4 linked regions of the Homo sapiens genome follow. The protein of the gene in region 1 interacts with the protein of each later gene in a biochemical or structural test. Each region holds a gene or a part of one and is shown on either strand. Other genes may lie near its edges.

Region 1 (5,061 bases):
TGTTCCATATTTCTGAAATGACGTGTGATTCGAATCAGTCATAGTGAAGTTTGAAGCCTCCCTGTACCAAAGACTCACATTTATTGGTACCTCCATGTTGTTGATGCTGTGAGCTACTCGTTTTTTTGTTTGTTTGTTTGTTTAACTTAAAAAACTTTGTTTTGTTTTTATTTTAAAATGTTTACAGGGAGGAGTGGATCAAAAGATGCCTCTTGTGGTATCAAGGATAAACCCAGAGTCACCTGTAAGTAAATACATTCCATGTTATTCCTCGTGTTTGTTTGTTTCCCCCTAATTCTAACAGGTTTCTGTTTCTGAGTCCTGTTTCTTTTTTTGCCAGAGCAAAGAATGTGCTTAGATATACATCACCATGTTTTCTATAACCTTGCGGCTCAGTGTGGTCTTTGAAGCCATAGCACCCATGTTACCTGGGACCTCATTAGAAATGCAGCATCTCTGGCCTCAGCTTAGGCCTGCTGAACCGGAATCTGCATTTTTAACAAGAGCCTTGAGTGGTTAGTGTGCATTCAATTTTGAGAAGTCCTTTTCAAGAGAAGGAAACTTAGGCAGTCTGCTGTTCTGCTCACTCTAAGTGGGCACGTGGGCCCTGTGCCTCTTCTCACCATCTTTCCACCAGTGCCCCTTTTGTCATCTGTGTAGGCCTCCTAAGAAGAGCATTTGCTTTGTTTTTCTTTCAAATTTATTTTATTGTTTTTAGGCCAGGCATAGTGGCTCACACCTGTAATCCCAGCACTTTGGGAGGCCGAGGAGGGTGAATCACTTGAGGCCAGGAGTTTGAGACCAACCTGCCTGGCCAACAGGGTGAAACCCATCTCTACAAAAAATACAAAAATTATCTGGGTGTGGTGGCACACAGGTGTGATCCCAGCTACTCAGGAGGCTGAGGCAGGAGAATTCCTTGAACCCAGGAGGCAGAGGTTGCAGTGAGCTGAGATCACGCCGCTGTACTCCAGCCTGAGCGACAGAGTGAGACTCTGTCTCAAAAATAAAATAAATTTATTTTATTGTTTTTAAAATAATATCAAGTAATTTTTTCGTTTAATTTTTTTATTGTGCATACTCAAGGTGTACAACATGATGTCTTGTTATACATATAGTACTGCAGTCAAACAAATTAACATGTTCATCACTTTCCATAGTTAACCTATTTTTCTTTTTTAAGAGACAGGGTCTCGCTCTTGCTCTGTCACCCAGGCTGGAATGCAGTGGTATGATCACTGCAGCCTCAAACTAGGCTCAAGCGATCCTCCTGCCTCTGCCTCCCAAGTCGCTGAGACCACAGGTGTGTCCCACCTCACCTGGCTCCATAGTTACCTTTTAATCATCTGCTTTTTTAAAGCAGTAGGAGTCACTGTGCCTCCTTACAGTGAACCACGTTGGGATTTTACTCTGAGGTAGTCCTTAAGCTCTTGTCATTTAACTTTTGTTACTGTTTACAGTTTCTGTAAATTCAGAAGGCTTTCTTTCCTGTGCTGTTCAATTCATTGCTTCTCTCCATAATGGTTTTTGCCTCTGTTGTGAAGCTTACAAAAGCTTTCACCTTTGCAAGACAGATAAATACTCACCTCTAGCTGGCAAATCATTTCCTAACAGTACATCTAGGAAACAAAAGGCTGGAAATGGTATAGTTATATTATAATAAGTGAAGGTTGACTACCACGGAGAAATGGCTTCAGCAATTTTTATATCCTTATTCTGAAATGTTTCATAACTTATATTCTGAGCAGTACTTCTTTATATCTTACAACCATCTACCATGTCCACATAGCAGTGGATGCATTATACAAATAATGACAGTACTACCCGAGGGAGAGAAGGCAAACTTGATCATGGTCCCAGGTGTCTGGGAGCAGAGCGAGTCAGCGTTCTTCCCCCAAGGACTGTGTTATGGTAACAGGAGAAACTCGCTTTTCCCCACCACCCAGGCGGACACCTGCATTCCTAAGCTGAACGAAGGGGATCAAATCGTGTTAATCAATGGCCGGGACATCTCAGAACACACGCATGACCAAGTGGTGATGTTCATCAAAGCCAGCCGGGAGTCCCACTCACGGGAGCTGGCCCTGGTGATCAGGAGGAGAGGTAATGGCCACCTGGGGGGAGGAGCCATAGGGAAGCTGTCCTAGCCAAGCTGCGCCTGCTCCAGCCCTTTATCTGCTCTTGAAAATGTTGAGTTTGTAGCCAACATTTGAAAATCAAGAATCTTCAGGTAATAACCGAATGTTTGGCTTCTCACTTGAAAAATGTGAAGATCTGCCCCCAGGAGGCCTGTCCCCATGTGGCCAGTCTTCTGGGGGGAGACAGCGCCCCTGCAGCCCCTTTATACAGGACATGAGCCCCCAGCTCCCAGTTCCTCCCAGGCCCAGCGCAGCCCACATCACGCACTCTCTAAGTGGCATGACTCTGCAGACATTTGCATTTTCAGCCCCTTCTTAAAGGATCTGGTGATATTTTATTCGTGCGTGTTTGATTTTGTCGGGGAGGCAGTGAGGAGAGCAGGGTCTGACTGTCTCGGGTGATTCCTCACTCTGCCTCTGCGGGCTGGGGGACCTTGCAGGGGTTACATAACCAGTCTGTGGTTCAGCTGGCTCAGGTGTGGAGGAGGACAGCAGTGGTCCCGACTTCACAGGGTTGCTGTGAAGATTAAATGGCACTTGGGGCCAGGCACAGTGGCTCACACCTGTAATCCCAGCACTTTGGAAGGCCAAGGTGGGTGTATCACTTGAGGTCAGGAGTTCAAGACCAGCTTGACCAACATGGTAAAACCTCATCTCTGCTAAAAATACAATAGCCAGGCATGGTGCCATGTGGGTATAGTCCCAGCTACTCAGGAGGCTGAGGCAGGAGAATCGCTTGAACCCAGGAAGTGGATGTTGCAGTGAGCTAAGACTGTGCCACTACACTCCAGCCTGGGTGACAGAGTGAGACTCCATCTCAATCATTCAATCAATCAATGGCACTTAGACTGGAAAGTACCTGCATTGCTGCCTGATGGGAGCAGAGGTTTGAAGGACAGCCTCTACTGAGCATCACACTGTTGTCTTTATAGTTGTTGTTATAAAATAATACGTCAAGTTCCTTGAACACCGTGCACAGCTGTAAAATACTGAAAGTAAATGAAGGTTGTGTCTGCAAAGCCCTGCGTCTCTGCCTGCCTCACACGTTTGGCTGACACTCCATACTGCTGTGCTCCTGCCTCGGCTCTGCTCCCACTGCAACTCTCAGTCCAGAGCCACCAGGACCAGCTCTGACCCCACCTCCTCCGTGAGGCCTTACCAGATCTCTCCGGTTCCCCACCTGTGCAAGGTTGGGAGTTGTGGGGGGGTGGTCCTAGCTTTGCTTTCACCTGTATTGAATTTAACATGAAGGGAAAACGTGCACTAAAGAGGTAAGGCTGAAGCACAGAAGAGATGCTAGGACTACGATATTTACGTGGGAGCCTCCCACATAGAAACGGCCCTGAGTTAGGGATTGAGCTCTCAGGAATGATGGTGTCACAGGAAAAGCTTGGGACCTCACCCTCATGCCTGAGGAAATGCCCATTTTAGGGAAGTAAATGAAAAAACCTGAGAAAGAAAGGGGAGTCGGGATGGGTAGAAGAATAACCCGGTCAGAAAGAGCAAGCAGAAACAATATGCTTTTTTAAATAACATTCTTTCTCTTTTCTTTACCTTTGACAAAAGCCTCTGAGTGTTAAACACCATTATTTAAAACTAACCAGGAAGATTAGTATGTCATTTTATGTAATTAACACATATTGAATCATTCACCTAGAAGTAGTATCTTTGGTGAAAATGATTACCATGTAGCTTAATCATTTAATAAGATGTTTTGAACCATCTGCATTCAGGTGTCATAGGTGTGATTTGTTTGAGGGAGACGGATAAACCTGAGTATTGCTACACAAGTCAGATGCACTGTCTTGTACGTTACAGCTGTCCGCTCATTTGCTGACTTCAAGTCTGAAGATGAACTGAACCAGCTTTTCCCCGAAGCCATTTTCCCCATGTGTCCGGAGGGTGGGGACACTTTGGAGGGATCCATGGCACAGCTAAAGAAGGGCCTCGAAAGCGGGACGGTGCTGATCCAGTTTGAGGTAAGACCCTCTGGAGGCTGAATCCCACTGCCATGTCGCCTATTGGGCTGCCCCTGCCTCTGAGCAGTGGAGGAAATGAGGCAGAGACACAAGCCCTTGTTTCCTTGGTCGAGATGATTGTGTGTTTCACAAACCAAAAGCAGTCAACTGAGTCTCTGAGGACTGACAGGGCGAGGCCTGTGCTTGTCGTGGATAACAGGGCACAGCAGGCAGCCCCCTTCTCAGGCTCGGAGCAGCAAGCAGGGATCAGGGTGGCCACCCTCGCTGAACTCTGTCTCACCCTCTTATTCTAGTAACATTTGGTAGTCATGGAGAAACATGCCAGAAACTGAGGAGGAGGGACTCTGAGTGTATTTAACTGCCAACACAAAAGCTCAAAACTCCCAGCAGTGGAAGGCAGTGGAGAGGTGGCTGTGGGTGAAGGAACCAGCTCTCTGACCACCCCCAGCCATGTGCTGGAATTTGGAGCAATTAGTGTTATCCCATGAGGGCATAGTGTCTCGCCCTCCCAAGTTGCCCAGAACCCTATAAACACAAGTAAGAAACCAAACTCAAACCCCCATCTTCCCCAGGGGAACCTGTGATTCATAGGATTCAGGCTGTTGACAAAGGTACACACAGACATTTTTTATAAAACAAAAGGGAACCAAAGGAAACTCAGCTTTTAAGCCAGTTTTACTGATCACTAACAGAATTAAAATAGAATGTGTTCATCTTCCAAATTTATTTTCTTATTTTTATTTTTTAAATATGTTGTTGTCGTTGTTTAAAATAGAGACAGGGTCTCACTGTGTTGCCCAGGCCAGTCATGAACTCCTGGTCCCACGCCGTCCTCCCGCCTCGGTCTTCCAAAACGCTGAAATTACAGGTGTGAGCCACCACACCCAGCCCATCTCCCAAATTTATTTAAAAGTAGAAGAAAACAGAGTAATTCCTGTAATAAA
Region 2 (4,296 bases), on another chromosome or scaffold:
ACTGTCCTTCCTGGGCCTCATTTTCCCCTCTGAGGTCCCTTCCAACACCAATACCCTGAACCGAATTCCAAAAATTACATCAAAGTCACAAACTTACTACATATGAAAAAGATGAAAAACATCTGTACTATAAGAATTTGAAGACCTTAAAAGATAAACTTGAACAATTATTAGGTACTCATCAAAATAATTTTTTTTTTTTGGACGGAGTCTCGCTCTGTCGCCCAGGCTAGAGTGCTGGAGTGCAGTGGCGCGATCTGGGCTCACTGCGAGCTCCGCCTCCCGGGTTCACGCCATTCTCCTGCCTCAGCCTCCTGAGTAGCTGGGACTACAGGCGCCCGCCACCACGCCCGGCTAATTTTTTGTATTTTTAGTAGAGACGGGGTTTCACCCTGTAAGCCCGGATGGTCTCGATCTCCTGACTTCGTGATCCGCCCGCCTCAGCCTCCCAAAGTGCTGGGATTACAGGCGTGAGCCACCGCGCCCGGCCTAAAACTAAAATTTTTTTAAAGTAAATTAGAAACCATAAAACTACCCCGACAAAAAGCCTAATATTAATTATATTACTGCTTCATATTTTCTCCACCTGCTATTGAGGAAATAGCTCATTTTTTTCTAACCTTGTTAAAGCATGAATTTATCATGCTTTTTTCTTCTTTTTCTTTTTTCCCAGACAGAGTCTCGCTTTATCACCCAGACTGGAGTGTAGTGGCGCAATCACCCAGACTGGCGCAATCTCAGCTCACTGCAACCTCCCCCTCCTGGGTTAAAGCGATCCTCCTACCTCAGCCTCCTGAGTAGCTGGGATTACAGGCACGCGCCACGACGCCCGGCTAATTTTTGTATTTTTAGTAGAGACGGGGGTTTCACCATGTTGGCCAAATTGGTCTCGAACTCCTGACCTCAGGTGACCCGCCCGCCTCGGCCTCCCAAAGTGCTGGGATTACCCCTGAGCCGCCGGGTGGTGGGCCACCGCGCCCCGCCTAATTTTTTTTTCATAAGAAACACTGGGCCGGGCGCGGTGGCTCACGCCTGTAATCCCAGCACTTTGGGAGGCCGAGGCGGGTGGATCATGAGGTCAGGAGATCGAGACCATCCTGGCTAACAAGGTGAAACCCCGTCTCTACTAAAAATACAAAAAATTAGCCGGGCGCGGTGGCGGGCGCCTGTAGTCCCAGCTACTCGGGAGGCTGAGGCAGGAGAATGGCGTGAACCCGGGAAGCGGAGCTTGCAGTGAGCCGAGATTGCGCCACTGCAGTCCGCAGTCCGGCCTGGGCGACAGAGCGAGACTCCGTCTCAAAAAAAAAAAAAAAAAAAAAAAGAAACACTGGACTTTTTCTGGTGCCCAAAAACAAAACTGTCTTGTCATCGTTGAAGCCGAGTAAGATTAGTCAACAGGATAATCACTTTCGAAAGAGAAACTTTACAGTGACAGAAAAGTGAAAAGGAGTCCCCCTCATCAGGATGACACAACCTTAAAGTACAACCCGACAAACCTCCACCCACTTGAAACCCACTAACTGGAAACTCCAGACAAAAACTTATTTTCAAAACTGTTACAATTCAAAGACTCCAATGACAGTGCAGTGGAAAATTCACGGGGACTGTATAATTTTCACGGCCTTCTGCAGTGAGTGCCAAATCTGGTCAGGGCCCCATCTTTGACTCCCCTCATCACTTTCCCTTTCAAATATGACTTGAAACGCATCAGAACACACCAAGCCTCTCCAACTACAATGCTGCTACCCTTTTATTCACAAACGCCTCTGTCCTCATAAAGGACATAAATTACTTTTCAAAAAAGGCATGGCCCCGGGATACAAGCCCTTTCCAAGGCTAAGGGAGTTCCTACTCTTCTTGGTGCCGCCCAAGTTCACTTTATTACTTCATATCCCATCCAGACGCGCAGAGCTGCAATCTGACTCAGGGGGCCCAGCCCAGGGCTGGGGTATAACGGTTTTGAGGAACTAGTATCACAAGCTTCTTGGGAAGTGGCCAGATAAACTCACCAAGTTTTTGTTTTCCTTTTTTTTAAGTCTGGGTGGAACTTACTTTCACTAGGACGTGGGACGCCTTCCCTCCCTAATGGGTGCCAGAGGACAAGCTTTCCTTTATTTTAAACGAAGTCACTCAACCTACACCAAACTGAGAACACACAACCCTCCCTCTTTCTGGTCGCCGAAGACGTGGCCACTGCGCAGCGGGCCGTAGGTTTGGACCCCTCATGGCTCAGAGCCCCTCATCCGTTTCCCCCCTCCAGTCCAAAGCCCCCTTCGCCCGCGCCCGCCCTGGTCCTCCCGGCCGACACTCGCCCGGCTCCCGGGACAAAGCGGGGCTGAAGGAAGGTTTCTTCTGGGGTCCCCGACGACAGCGGGCGCGGGAAAGCGCCCCGGGCTCGGCGCGCACTCACCCGACAGCTCGTCCGGCTCCAGCCCGGTCTCCGTGTCCAGTCCGCAGATGACAAAGTAGTCGGCGAAGCGACTGGGCGCCGAGCCCCCTCCGCCGCCGCCGCCACTCATGGCGCCGGGGCCGAGACCGGCCGGGCAGTGCGGAGCGGCACCGAGCCCCCGCAACCCGGGCGCCCGCCCGTCCGCCCTCAGGCCGCCCCTCCCGCCGCCGCCGCTACCGCGGCTCGGGCCGCCGCCCCCGGCCCTGGCCCGGTCCCCTCGGCCGCCGCGGCTGCCGTGACGGGGCGGGGGGGCACCGGGCCGCCCCGCACCGCATCCTGGATGCCTTCCCCTCCGCGCCGCCGCCGCTGCAGCTAGCCGAGAGCGCCGCGGCCCGAGCGAGCCTGGAGAAGGGCGGAGAGCGCGTGGACAGCCCCCACCGTGACCCTCCTCCTACCGCGCCTGCGCAGGCGCCGTCTGGGAGGGGGCGGGCTCCTGGGGGAAAGGATGACGTGATGCTCTTCGGACCCCGCCGGCCGCAGCTTCCCGGGAGGTCGCCGCAGCGCAGCCGGTGACTGCTTGGTCGCCCGCAACTGCCACTCCCCCGGGATTGAGACTCCTTTAGGGAGGGCTGAGGAGGTGCGAGAAGAGTGGGCGCAGCCTGCAGAGCCGGGCATTTGGCCCATGCTCTGCCCCCAACCACCCACCCAGCAAGCAGAGGTCCAGAGATCTTAGCGCGGCCTTGCCATGAGGATGGGGTCTCACGACTGAGCTCGGAAGCTCACCTAATCCTAGCTGCAGCGTGTCAGCCTAGACCCCAGACAGGGCCTTCTCCCTGTCCTCTCTTTTGGCAGGGGCGGATGAGCCGGTTTTATATTTACCCTTATTTTACAGACGGGGAAACTGAGTCTCAGAAAGAAGCAAGGACTTATCCAAGGTTACGCTGAGTCTAAGAGACATAAGCCTGGTCTGGAATCCTGGGCTTGTGGTCAGCTCCCCGTTCCTCGCCGCTCCCACCTCCCAGCCTGCCCTTTTCCCACGCTCTCTCCTTTTTTCTCTGGAAGCCTCCAGAGGCGCCTGCCATTTGGGAGCTCCTCTTCCTCTTCACTCTGTGAAAACTCTCAGATCCACCCCTAAACCTGTTTTCCTGTAAGAGGATAGGGAGGAGGCGAAGGGAAACTTACCTATTGGTCCTTGTCCTAGGACCCTCCGATTTCCTTTCCCATAGAAGCTAGGCAGATGTGTCTTTGTTGGAAACTGGAGATCAGAGGCCAGAAAGGCAACACAGGTATAGTGGTCACTAGCATGGGCTCTAGAAAAAAATGCTCGGATTTCAATCCTGACGATCATTTACTTTTGACCTTGAGCAAGTTAATCTCTAAGTGCCTGGCGTCATGGTTTTTGAGACAATTACATAAGGTAAATGCAAGTACAGGTAAAACAATGAGAATACTGCCTGGAACATGGAAATCACTCAGTAAATATTACAGATTTTTTTTTTCAAGACGGAGTTCTGTCTTGTTGCCCAGGCTGGAGTGCAATGGCGTAATCTCGGCTCACTGCACCTCTGCCTCCCAGGTTCAAGTGATTCTCCTGCCTCAGCCACCCAAGTAGCTAGGATTACAGGCGCGCACCACCACACTCGGCTAATTTTTTGTATTCAGTAGAGACAGGGATTCACCGTGTTGGTCAGGCTGGTCTCGAACTCCTGACCTCAGGTGATCCGCCCTCCTCTGCCTCCTAAAGTGCTGGGATTACAGGCATGAGCCAATGAGCCCCCAGCCTGGATTATTATTATTGTTCCAGAAGGAAGTACTCTTACGGTTTGTTCTGGGAGGCTGCCACTAAGAGCTGTAGAAGGCAGCTGGCTTCCCCAAAGGCTGAGCCTAGGCTCTCTCCTAGGTTCTCC
Region 3 (3,500 bases), on another chromosome or scaffold:
AAACCAGTCCGAAAAGCCTACATGCTGTATGATGCCAATATATGGCATTCTGAGAAAGGCAAAACTATGAAGACAGTGAAAAGATCAGTAGTTGCCAGTGGTTTGGGGATGAGGAGAGGGATAAATGGGTGAAGCACAGGAGATTTTTAGTGCAGTAAAACTATTCTGTCTGATACTATAATGATGGATACATGAATTTGTGAAAACCTACAGAACTCTACAGCACAAAGACTGAACCTTAATGTAAACTATGAACTTTAGTTAATGTATGAATAGAGGTTCACTAATTGTAACAAATGTATCACACTCATGCCAAATGTTAGTGAACAGGGAAACTGTTCAGGTGAGGTGGGCATATGAGAACTCTGTACTCTTTGTTAAAAAATAAAGACTATTAATTTAAAAAAATCAATAAATGATGGTTAAAAGAGGGAAAAAGTGCCAACTGAATGTCAGCCATCATTATTATTATTGTAGCTAATCCTTATGAAGTGGATAAGATTTGTTTTATGCCCTCCTTTATGTCTCTATTGTTTCTTTGTTTCTGATTATAAAAGCTCTATGAACTCACAGACCAAGCATTATTTAATTCTCTTAACAGTAAGAAAAAGGAAGTTCAGAGAATTGTCAAAGATTAATGGCAAATAAATGGTAAAGCTGAGACAAAATCCTAGTGTTCCAAATTTTTTGTATTCCACCTTGTTGTCGTACAATGATCAGAATTTTTATTAATTCTCTGTTTCAGCAACTTTCCACTTTGGCTGAAATGTATGATTTTCTAACTCAGCAAAGACAGCAAAGACTAAGACTCATAGTGATGGGGCTCAAGCCATGGCCTGCAATCCAAGGTTGGGGTAAATGAGCCACCTGGGCGGGTACAGAGGAATTGGCTCCCCATTTTAAATGCAGAATGAATAAAATGAACTCAAATTAAGCCATTTTAATATTTTCATAGTGCAAGTGAACTTTGTTCCCCAAGTTATAGAACTAACTTCCTGTGCTTTTAATGGTTTTATGATGTTACAGACTTTTTTTCTCTTCTCAGAAAATCGAGAAGGAAGCTGGCATAGGCCACACCCCATCCTCCTCTCTGAAGCTATGCTTATAGCTTGTGACATTATGTAGCAAACCAAATAATATTTAAGGTCGCCTTCAGCTCCTTTAGGGATGGGGGATCTATCCCGTTAACAGATCCTCAAAGTCATGTTGTTGCTAATCTATATTAGTTATCCCTCCTGCCTCATCCTTCTGAGAGGGTTCCTTTCTCTAGGGAAGGAGGGAGGTCCTCAAATTGTATACGACAATGCATGGGGAAGCACTTCCTCCACTGACCTCTTTCCAGCAGTGATTCATAATCTGGTAGACGTGTGTGGAGGCCAGCCGGGGCTTGTACAACCGAAATCCGGTACTGATGTCTTCCACCACCTCTGAGTTGCTTCGGTTTTCATACGGGATTTTGCCTTCACTGAAAACTTCCCACATCAGCACACCTACAAGAAATGGTGAGCACAGCACAGTGAATGACAAAGCCCACAGACAGCAAACAAACCAACCTGCCTCTAGAAATTACAGACTCCTTGCATTAGGATTCATGTGCTACCTCCAGAAGTGCATCAAGTCTACCTGAGGCTTATTAGGCCTGTCCTATTTTTAAAGAACTGAAATTTCCCAACCTTTGTAGTGGAGAAGGATTTTCAAGATGGACCCTTTGTTGTACCAAACTCAAATGCTACAACTAAGAGTTGTAGACTCAAATGCCAAGATGCAGGATGTAAATGAATGGAGTGCAGGAGGTGTGACACTATTGGGATTGGGGAGGATTGTGGAAAATGAGATAAACAGTTCTGTCTTAAGGAGACAGCTATGATTTGACTCCAACCAAAGTATGGCACATGAAAATGAGGGATCAGAATTGGCACATTTTCTGATTTTTTTAAAAAAGACGTCAAAAATTAAGAGTTGAACTTCTTGAATTTAAAAAATGCCATGTAGACCAAGCAAAACACATCTTTTGCTTGTCTATTTTTGACCTCTGATTTAATCCCTTTCTTTTCCTCTTCTGCCCTTGGTAGAAATGTGACACCTAGCTTTGTCTTTATCATGTGCTGATATATTCACAGGTTGTCAGAGCAAGAAGGCTGCTTGCAAATCAGCTAATTCAGAGCTTTTCAAAGGTTGTTCCAGAGAATCTTAGAGTAGACATTCCCAAAGCATGATCCCCAAAACACCTGAATAAAAATCATCTCAGAGTCTTGTTCAAATGGCAGATTCCTGGGCCCTAGCCCAAACCCAGTGGATCAGAATCTCTAGATGTTACTCAGAGGTGCCTCAGGAGTTGGAAATTCAGAACCTGACCCTAAATAAGAATGCTTATCACCCCAAGACACCATAATTTTTAGTGAAAATTTTTTTGAAAATGTGCCGATGCTGAAACATGGTTTCAGAATGATTGCTTTAATACACAGATGAGAAATGTATAGATAAAAAAATTGAGCAAAGTACAAAGAGGTTGACTTGTTCTGAATAGCACACTGCTAATTAGGGCAAAGAAACTTAAAACGTAGGACAAAGTCCAATGGGCTGATGCAGGCATGGAGTTTTCAGCTCATCCAGGTTTCTGTTGCTTAGGCTGGTACCCCCAGTTTTTTCACACTTTTTTCCATTGATCTCTCAATTCTGCATCCATCCATCAACCTCATTTCTGGACTCTCTTCAGATAATATATCCTAGACAGGGACTAATTTCAGCCCAACCCTGTAATGGTAATATGCCCCAGGAAATTCCCAGGCTGACACCCTTTGGCTGAATAAACCCCATTCAGAGTCAGAAGGTGAATGTGCTAAAGTGGCCATTGCTCCAAATGTCTCATTGTGGGGCCCTTGCTTGCTTGGTGCAGTGTGATCAGTTTCATCACCCATAGTGAGATGACTGCACATCAGCCCCAACCTTCCTAGTTATACACACTGGGGAGAGGGGAGTCATCCAAAAATGCTGTTAGTACAATTTCTTTCAAGTCCATTCTGTAACTTAAACCTGGTTAACAAAGTAGCTGCAAGGGTTGGTTAATAGGGTACTGTTTTAAGAAATAGGTAGGACTCATAATGAACAAACCACTTGGCTCCTAGAGATGGATAGACTAAAATGCTGCAGAAGATTTTTAACACTCATTCTTCTCCTAAAAGATTTACCTAGCCAAACTCCCCCCTGGTTTCTACTACTAGTAAGCCCTTGTCAAACCCTTCCTTCATACCGAATGGCAAAAATCAATCTTCAAGTAGTTTCTGTCCACAGTATAATTCTTGTAATCCAAATCAAAGAGGTTGTCTGGTATATTTTTTTGCACACTTTAGTATGCACAAACTATGACTTCAGGTGACATGGCAAATCCAGCAAGAACATTTGGCACATCCTGCAATACCAACATCATTCATCCCTTCATGGCCATTTGCACTTTTTAGAAATTCTAATTCCTTATGATGGCCTACCAGCTTCATTGCCTG
Region 4 (3,500 bases), on another chromosome or scaffold:
AAGCACATAAAAAGCACTCAATAAATGCTTGCTTTGTTGACAATATTGTTAATCTTTACTCCATCTATGATGAATAAATTTTTGAGATGGTATATATAAAATGAATGACACATAATAAATATTGGTTTCCTTTTTTTGCAGGGTAGAAACTCAGGTGCTTATCTCATTTATGCTGTCCCCCCCCCCCCCCCCCAGCTATCTTATTCCTTATCTGATGAATTATCTCAAGTGTATCAAACTAGTTGACATGGTCACCACATCCTTTACTCATTCTCTTTTGCTAATTACTTTCCTTTCCAGGTGATCTCTATATGGCTGGTCTGGCCCAAGGCATGTACAGCAACCTCCCAAAGCTCGTGGCCTCTCGAGATGGCTTTCAGGGCTGTCTAGCATCAGTGGACTTGAATGGACGCCTGCCAGACCTCATCAATGATGCTCTTCATCGGAGCGGACAGATCGAGCGTGGCTGTGAAGGTACAACCTATTTTTTTCTTGTTAAGCTACAGCCTTGTTGCAAGCACCAAGCCTCTTTGCTGCCTCTGCCACTGCCTCCTTCCTCAGTTGACCAGTCCTGTCTCATTCTCATTTGCCACGTGACATTGCATCACCATCAGTGTTCTCTTGTCACTGGTTTAGTATGTCAAGACATGTGCCACAGGCTCCAGGAATGTATGTTGGCAGATGTTTTCTGAGTATCACATACTTGCCAATAAAAATAAAATAAAATAAAAAACTTCCCTGGCATTGACATCAGGCTTCTTTCAATGTGTACCTTGGCTTCCAGAATGGCTGAAACAGCACTGGAGACTTTTATTTATACTTTAATACATGATGAGGGGAAAACCAGAGATTTTATGTAGATGTCACTAATTAATAAAATGTTTCTTATTTTGGCTGATAGTGACTGCATTATTTAATGCAAATCTAGCAGGCAATAGGAAAACGATGTCCAAATGCCATGATGATGGAAGGGAACTAACATTTACTAAGTACTTACTAATTATCAGGCATTGCTAGGCAGTTCTTTAGTGTGGTATATTGGAACATTATGGGCTTTGATATTAGAAATACCTGGATTCAGCTCCAGGTAGTAGCTCTTGTTAGCTATGTGACATTTGGAAGGTGATGTAACTTCTGTAAGCTATATCTTTCTTACCTATAAAACAGGGCAATAAAACTTACCTTGAATGTAAGGAGATCAGAAATACACATAAAATGCCTGGTATGTAGTAGGTACTCGATAAATGGTAGGCTTATTGTTTACAAATATTATTTTATGTCAAACATCTAATAATACTGCATGTCTACCCATGCAGCACAACAAACCATGCTCAGCCTGTTCCTGTAGATGATCCACTGTCTCTTGAGATACTAAATGAATTTTACAGGTCTTCCTGAATCCAACAATTCTTTGCAGTGTAAACAATCTAGTTTTAACCAGCAGATGGCAGAAGTGAACACATTCAGCCTTCCCTAGTAGTCTTGGGTTGGCTGAAAACGTGACTGTTACCTAACTTGAAAGGCAAAGAAGTTGCCTGACCAAGGATCTATGTAATTATTTCCTTTTTTTCTTTTTGAGCCTTTTGGTTGAGCCTTATGGTCCTGTGTTTGCGCAATATATTGTGTTTCCTTGTATCAGTTGTTAATTTACCACATCAAATCTGTTCATTCCACTTCTGTGTTCAACTTCATGTATCGCTTCTGTTCTTAAACAGCTTCCATCTGGGTTAGCTCATCATCGTAAAGCACACATTTATAAAAGCTTCCTGTCAGCTTATCAGGCTGACTTGGAGTTATGGAAATTGTTTCCCTTTGCCTAAGAGTTATTTTTGTATTTTGCACTAGTAATAGGAATGTTCATTCCTATAACCCACTCCATTTTTCCTTTATCCAGAAATATTTCTTAAATTGTCTTGGCCAAATATGGTGTTTGTACTATGTAGTGTGTGTGTGTGTGTGTGTGTGTGTGTGTGTGTGTGTGTGTATAAAGGGACAGGAGGTTGGGAATCACTAAGCCCTTAAAGCAGCCACTTTGCTCCTAGAAATGAACAATTTCATTCAATCAGGGATTTTTGTCTCCTTGGCTTGCTTTTAGTTCTTTTGTGTATTAAAGGGCAATCCTGGAATAGACGTAGCATTTGGAATTAAATTGTATATAGTGTTTAGAAGATTGTAGAATGGCAGTAATTCCATTTATCCTGGAATAATTAATCATATGAAGTCAAATCACAATATAAGAGCACATATTAGAAAGCGTAAGATACTGGTCAAATGTTACAGAATTTTTATTATGCCATCAGTTCTTCAGATTTAAAAGTTAACAGGAATCATCCATTAACTCTATGTCAGTGTTTTCCAATAGATATATGTAACACATGCAATTATAAATTTCCTAGTAGCTACATTTTAAAAAGGTATAAAGTAACAGGTCAAATTTATTTTAATTTTGTATTTTATTCAATTTAACTAAATATACCCAAAATATTATTTCAGAATGTAATAGAGATAAAATTATCAATATTTTGCACTTTTTTTCACATTAAGCCTCTAAACTTGAGTTTGTATTTTATACTTGCAGCACACCTCAACCCAGGGGCTACATGCATTTAAAGTGCTCAATACACATGTCAATGGCTACTGTATTGGTAGTACAGGTATACAGAATACAAAAATTAAGGTGTAAATAAATAAAGCTATAGTATTGGATTAAAAGGAGGTCTAAGCTTTATAAAAGGGTACTAAAATGTATAATATAAAGGGAGAATGACCTCACTTAAGAGAGTTTTAAGAGAAGCAGTAAGAGCATCAGCAAAAAGAAATTACATAACGAGTTGGGGAAAATGTCCCTATCCCTATCTACAGCTCTATGTGCAGTTTGGCATTACTCATCACATGCATTACAGAGAGCTCCGACCTTCCTCTGAGTATGGTTGATTGTTCAAAGCCGGATATTGTGGCTTGATGGCTCCACCATCTGAATCTATGGTGAGTCCCATGAGCCTAATAGCACTGCACTCTATTGCCATGGAGATAATTACAACGGTTACCCACTGAGCATTATGCCTACCCCGCTGGGTGGGATGAAGTGGAGGGTGAGTGCTGAGGGAAGAAAGTCCTTGTTGATTGTACACAAATGACTTGGATAATTAGCCTAAGTGGCCAGGAAAAATGGCCCAAAATGGGTTAAGGCATAAATTACTGTCATTGGAAGTTTGTACCACTGTGAATAAGCCCTTGCAAGAGATCCCAGGAGCATTTTAGGGTTCTGTGTAAGATGGTGGGGAGGTAAAGGGAGAGCACAAAACACTGGAGACACTGCAAAAAGGCATCATTTTTATTCTGAATCTCTTGTGTAGAGCATGAGACCCCCAAGAAGGCCTTTGAGCATTAGGTAGTATGAGGACCACAGGAAACAGAACAAATTTCTTAATTTATCATTTCTTTTACATAGAACAGTAAACAAGTAGGGGATGAGGTTTTATAACTAAGAACTAAGACCA

Evidence for each region. The genes of interacting proteins can lie anywhere in the genome.
Region 2: the proteins of PTPN3 (region 1) and DENND5A interact in a test that uses a peptide from one of them, tested with the Homo sapiens proteins (one large-scale study listed by IntAct).
Region 3: the proteins of PTPN3 (region 1) and ITK interact in a test that uses a peptide from one of them, tested with the Homo sapiens proteins (one large-scale study listed by IntAct).
Region 4: the proteins of PTPN3 (region 1) and NRXN3 interact in a test that uses a peptide from one of them, tested with the Homo sapiens proteins (one large-scale study listed by IntAct).

What each region holds. Positions count from the first base shown.
Region 1 is NC_000009.12:109,403,504-109,408,564, reverse strand, and holds part of PTPN3 (tyrosine-protein phosphatase non-receptor type 3), read left to right. Parts: intron 1-187; coding exon 188-244; intron 245-1,946; coding exon 1,947-2,103; intron 2,104-3,956; coding exon 3,957-4,117; intron 4,118-5,061.
Region 2 is NC_000011.10:9,262,551-9,266,846, forward strand, and holds the start of DENND5A (DENN domain-containing protein 5A), read right to left. Parts: upstream 2,801-4,296; 5' UTR 2,520-2,800; coding exon 2,411-2,519; intron 1-2,410.
Region 3 is NC_000005.10:157,246,840-157,250,339, reverse strand, and holds part of ITK (tyrosine-protein kinase ITK/TSK), read right to left. Parts: intron 1,491-3,500; coding exon 1,333-1,490; intron 1-1,332. UniProt on the Homo sapiens protein: Tyrosine kinase that plays an essential role in regulation of the adaptive immune response. Regulates the development, function and differentiation of conventional T-cells and nonconventional NKT-cells.
Region 4 is NC_000014.9:78,967,873-78,971,372, forward strand, and holds part of NRXN3 (neurexin 3), read left to right. Parts: intron 1-300; coding exon 301-474; intron 475-3,500. UniProt on the Homo sapiens protein: Neuronal cell surface protein that may be involved in cell recognition and cell adhesion. May mediate intracellular signaling. Functions as part of a trans-synaptic complex by binding to cerebellins and postsynaptic GRID1.